Linked DNA regions of Homo sapiens: region 1 is linked to region 2. The links come from fine-mapping of genetic effects on gene expression. Tissue or cell type: esophagus muscle. Region 2 holds a variant in brackets; the other region holds the start of a gene. All regions are shown on one strand. Distances are from middle to middle.

What was found. PIP is the estimated chance that this variant, and not a neighbour inherited with it, causes the effect.
Region 1: it holds the start of PDK3, and the variant in region 2 is fine-mapped to the expression of PDK3 in esophagus muscle (GTEx, PIP 0.97).

Annotation. Positions count from the first base shown.
Region 1 is chrX:24,463,443-24,466,352 of GRCh38, forward strand. It overlaps PDK3 (pyruvate dehydrogenase kinase 3), which reads left to right and starts at 1,844. Exons shown (of 11, transcript NM_005391.5): 1 at 1,844-2,119. The coding sequence starts at 2,014. RefSeq lists a silencer at 1,585-1,904.
Region 2 is chrX:24,490,314-24,493,223 of GRCh38, forward strand. All of the region lies in intron 1 of PDK3 (pyruvate dehydrogenase kinase 3), which reads left to right. Among named protein-coding and RNA genes, the nearest start is that of PDK3, 26 kb to the left of the region's middle. RefSeq lists an enhancer at 921-1,884. The variant G/A (reference allele first, on the strand shown) is at 1,364.

The DNA of each region.
Region 1 (2,910 bases), 27 kb before region 2:
TTACTTAGCTCTTCTGGTAAAGCTCCTGGTTAAATAAGTTGTTAGTATGTCTTTTTTAATGCTTTGATTTAATTTGAATGGAAAAGACATGGTAGTCTACATACTTCTACCAAGATGAAGATGACCAAGATGTTCTTGAAAATCCAAAAGTCTAGAAGACCACTGGATGTCTTTTTTTTTGAGATGGAGTCTTGCTCTGTCGCCCAGGCTGGAGTGCAGTGGCACGATCTCGGCTCACTGCAAGCTCCGCCTCCCAGGTTCATGCCATTCTCCTGCCCCAGCCTCCTGAGTAGCTGGGGCTACAGGGGCCCGCCACCACGCCCGGCTAATTTTTCGTACTTTTAGTAGAGCTGGGGTTTCACCACGTTAGCCAGGATGGTCTCGGTTTCCTGACCTCGTGATCCGCCCGCCTCGGCCTCCCAAAGTGCTGGGATTACAGGCGTGAGCCACCGCACCTGGCCGAGGTCTTTTACTGTGTATGTTACTTTTCTTTACATTCAGAGTAGAGATGCAACTATTTTATTAAGCAAAGAATTGGCTGCATAAACGTCCACTGAAGGCACAAAAGCTAAATAGCTACCCACCAATAATCTCATTCAGTGAGAAAACTAGTCCAATCAGAGACCCAAGGAGTGGCTTCCAGTCACATTTGTACCTTTCCTTAAAGAACATTCTTCCTGTCCTTTTAGTTACATATGTTTATGTTTACATATTGCCAAAAAAAAAAAAAAAGCCAAGGTTTGGTGGAAATGGCTAAAGTAAGCTGTACTTTATTCACTCATAATAGGAAATAACAATTTCATATACTGAGCCCTGAGTTCAAGTTCACTTTTTTTTTTTTTTGAGAGGGGGGTCTGGGTATGTTGCCTAGGCAGATCTTGAACTTTTGGGCTCACGTGATCCTCCCACCTCCGCCTGCAGGGTCGTTGGGACTATAGGTGCATGTCACCATGCCAGGCTCTCAAGTTCACTTGAGATAAAGAATACCCAACACTGTGTAAGCATAGACTCCTGTCCAAAAGTGGTGGTGAAGCGTGAAGGGGGCTGTCCTATGGTGGTGGTGTAGAGAAGGGGTATGAAAGAAAGTGCCAGTGACCTTACATTTGATCCTTTCCAATGGTAGTAGTGGGGTGGGGGGGTATGAAACAGAGTCAGTGACCTTGCAATTATCCTGTCCACTGGCATTGGGGAGGTAGGGGGTGTTATTGACCCTTGACCTCACAATGGATCCCGTCCAACGGTGGTGGTGGGGGGACATGAAATGCAATCAGTCACTTAATCTTGTGCGGGAAGGAGGGGAAAGGAACCACGAAAAAGAGAATCAGCGAACTAACAATCCAGTCCAAAGGTGTTCCAAAGGTGTTCTCTTGGGAGTCAGGCAGGGAGGTGGGGGTGGGGCTGGGCCACGAAACAGAGTCAGTCTAGTTAGGCTGTAAAATCTAAGTGTCAGGATGCAGCGAACGGCAAGTCCTCCTCCCGGAAAAGGCGCCTGCGGTTGAGAAGGGTCTTGAGCAGCGCGGAGGATCGGATTCCGGGCTCCTGGCCTCTTCCCGGTCCGCGGGCACCTCGGCTACCTTTCGGCAGCGGAGAACCCAGCCAGAGGCGGAGCTGAAAGCGGCTGCACTTGCTGGGCTGGGCTGAGTCCCATGAGCCAGGGAGGGGGGTCTCTGGCGCCGCGCCCGGACAAAACACAAACGTCACAGAGGCAGCGGCGGCCAATCAGTGGAGGGCGCGCGCGGCCGCGTGCCCCTCGCGCTCCTCGCCTCCCCTCGCGCGCCGCGTACGTGCAGCAACCGACTCCGCCCAGCGAGGCGGAGCCTAGGGAAGCCGCGGGCGGCCCGCCGCTGTCCTGGAGCTGCTGCTGCTGCTGCGGCGGCTGCACCGGCGGCGCCGAGGCCGAGATCGAGGCCGGGGTGCGCGCTTCGCAAACGTGCCCTATCCGTGCGGCTTGGCTGCGCCAGCCCTTGCGGCCACCCGGGCGTCTAGGCGGGTCTGTGCGCCGCCCGGGCGAGGATGCGGCTGTTCCGGTGGCTGCTGAAGCAGCCGGTGCCCAAGCAGATCGAGCGCTACTCGCGCTTTTCGCCGTCGCCGCTCTCCATCAAACAATTCCTGGACTTCGGTGAGTACGGGGCCAAGGGTCCCCATGGGCCCGGGGCCGCCGCCATTCGGGCTGCCACCCCGGATCTCCGCAGCTTCGGGGTAAAGTCTGTGGGAACCGCAGGCGGGGCTAGGGAATATCCGGGGGGCTCTCCTGGGGCTCGGATTTCGGGGCGCGGAGGGGCAGGGCCTGGCCCCCTCGCACCCAGCCTGGGACTTACCCGGAGACACAGAAACGGCGTCTCATTGCAGGACCCTCATCGCAGGCGAGACTCCCCAAACCTGCGGTCGTTAGCTTCAAATCTGCTTGACACAAACCTCACAGCCCTTAAAACTTCAGAACGAGATGTGGGTGGCTTTTTAATGTTTTTATTTTTAGAATTTTTTTTTTTTGGTTGGGTAAGAACTGTTTAGAAATACCTTGAGGTTGAATAAATTATGCAATGGCATTTTGTTCCTTTTCTGCTCTAAGGTGTTGCTGTGTGGCTGGAGTGGCAGGACTCGAACTGTTGTCTTCATCAGGTTATGTTAAATCAGTTAGAGGCCTGGCCTGCAGACGCCTTAGATGCTTGGGAAGAGCGGACGTCTGGGATCCTAGCATCAGAGCAGGGTCTAATACAACTCTGGCTTTAGTGCCAGCACCTTTCGTTTCTCTTCTCCATTGGTGTCCCACCCACATTCTCCCTGTCCGGTGGGCTGGTGGGCGGCTTTCACGGATTGAGGTGGGACCAAAGAAGATTCGGGTTCCCAGCCTGCCTCAGGCCTAGCTGAGATGGGAATAGATTCCACCACCTTCTGTTAACTGAATCATGT
Region 2 (2,910 bases):
TGTGAAGTAGATACTGCTCTTTTTTTATAGGTGGTTACAATGAAGTTTAGAAGTGTAAAGAAACTTACCCCTGCTCATGAAGCTTGTGAATGCTCTAGTCAAGATTCAAACCCTGACCTTTGTCATCGAACTTCAGCACCTGACCTTTGTCATCAACGCCCCGCAGGACCATAAGCTTTTCTCTGAATCCTGAACTCAAAAAACTCTGAAAATTGAATTTCTTTTTCATATATTTGCTGCCACAACTCATTTTGTGGCAAAACCAGACCTGAACTGACTTGATTCCATAGTCCTTATCCTACTTACTGGAAATGTTCACGTATTTCACTGCAGCTATGTTGTGGCTCTCTAATACTCTGTATTGTACAATGTATGGTATAGACTCCTTTTTACCTTCCTAAAATTGAAAAACCTTTAAATTCTGAAACCATCTAGATCTGCAACTTCTAGAGAAGAGATGAGAAGCTGACTATGGCCACCTCACACCTGCCAGCCAGCTCTCACTGCTCACAACATGCTCGTATCCTGTGACTCCTAACAGGCTGCCAACTTGGAAATTTAAACATGTATACTTTCATTACCCTCAAAAACTCATAATTGTGAAAAAATTATTAGTTCATACTGATACTACCAGTTTCAGTTTAACACCAGAATTCTTCTACTTCTTCCCTATTCCAGAACTTCCTTTTTCCTCTTAAAGAAAAAAAAAAACTGGCTAGACATGGTTGGTGGCTCACACCTGTAATCCCAACAGTTTGGGAGGCCGAGGTGGGCGGATCACCTGAGGTCAGGAGTTCAAGACCAGCCTGGCCAACATGGTGAAACCCTATCTCTTTGTAAAAATACAAAAATTAGCCGGGCATGGTGGCGGATGCCTTTAATCCCAGCTACTCCAGAGGCTGAGGCAGGGAGAATTGCTTGAACTCGGGAGGTGGAGGTTGGGTGACAGAGCGAGACCCTGTCTCAAAAAAAAAAAAAAAGAAAAAAGAAAAAAAAATTATCTGATACTTGTTAAAGATGGTAGGGAAGGCTTTATTCAAGAGGGACCACTACAGTGGGAGTTTTGCAATAGTGGGGAGAGATCAGGTTGAACTCCTAATGCAACAAGGACAAGTGGAAATTTATAGCCAAGGAGCAGAGTGTGGGTCAATGGGTGGAAAGTTACTAAGAGGAAAAATCCAGGTTGGAGGGGATTCTTGTTGAAGGCAGGCCAGCATGATAAGATATCGAGGGTAGGGGGATCAGACACCAAGGGTAGGGGATTTTCACTAAAATGACTCAGCAGGATTTTTGCTGAGACTGGACTAAGCAGGTCAAGATAGAACCCAAAGTCGAGGCCTAGTCAGAAAGAGGACTCAGAGCC[G/A]GGCACGGTGGCTCATGCCTGTAATCCCAGCACTTTGGGAGGCTGAGACGGGAGGATCGCTTGAGCCCAGGAGTTCGAGACCAGCCTGGGCAACATGGCGAAACCCCCTCTTTACTAAAAATACAAAAATTAGCCAGCTGTCCCACCTACCTGGGAGGCTGAGGTGGCAGGATCACTTGAGCCCAGGAGGTTGAGGTGGTAGTAAACCGTGATTGTACCACTGCACTGCAGCCTGGGTGACAGAGTGAGACCCTGTCTCCAAAAGCAAACAAACCCAGAAGAACCGGTTTCAAGTTTGGTCAAAGGAGAGAGTCTTTGTCATCCCACAGTGAGAACATCAATGTTTCTTTTGTGATTTAAAGATAATTTCCTTTCTGTTTAGCCAGGATGCAAAGTATTTTTCCTGGCATGTGAAAAGCTAGACTTTTATTTTAACTTAGATAATAGGGAATTCATTTTATAATGAGATTCACTGTGATAAATATCAGCAATTTTATTGCATTTAAAATTAAAATTATATTCATCCAGAACCTTTTAGGAATAATATACAGATGCTCCTTGACTTACAGTGGGGTTACATCCTGATGAATCCATCATAAGTCGAAAATATTGTAACTCAAAAATGCACTTGGCCAGGCACAGTGGCTCATGCCTGTAATGCCAGCACTTTGGGAGGCCAAGGTGGGTGGATCACTTGAGGTCAGGAGTTCGAGACCAGCCTGGCCAACATGATGAAACCCTATCTCTACTGAAAACACAAAAATTAGCCAAGCATTGTGACGGGCGCCTGTAATCCCAGCTACTCGGGAGGCTGAGGCACGAGAGCCGCTTGAACCTGGGGGGTGGAGGTTGCAGTAAGCGGAGATCATGCCACTGCACTCCAGCCTGGGTGACAGTGAGATTCTGTCTCAAAACAAAAAAGCCCTTAATAATTAGATAAACCCATCATAAAGTGAGAAGATTAAACAATCAAAAAATCATAAGTTGAACTGTTTTAAGTTGGGGACTGTCTCTATATTATTTGAAGCAAAATGACCAGAGCTGGCTGGGCGCGGTGGCTCATGCCTGTAATCCCAGCACTTTGGGAGGCCGAGGCGGGTGGATCACGAGTCAGGAGATGGAGACCATCCTGGCTAACACAGTGAAACCCCGTCTCTACTAAAAATACGAAAAATTAGCCAGGCGTGGTGGTGGGTGCCTGTAGTCCCAGCTACTTGGGAGGCCGAGGCAGGAGAATCACTTGAACCCAGGAGGCGGAGGTTGCAGTGAGTCGAGATCATGCCATTGCACTCCAGCCTGGGCGACAGAGCAACACTCCGTCAAAAAAAAAAAAAAAATGACCAGAGTCATTTTAAATGTTAATTGCCTAAGGCCAAATGAATGTGTATAGAATAGATGTTGGAAGGTCATTGTGGGGGCATTACACCCCTTCTCCTCTTACTTGAAGTGGGTATTTGGGGATTGAGGTACTTATCACAGTGAAAGTATGAAGGAGAAAAGTGAATCATCATTTAGTTAAAAGATTTACCAAAGGCCTTCAATATACT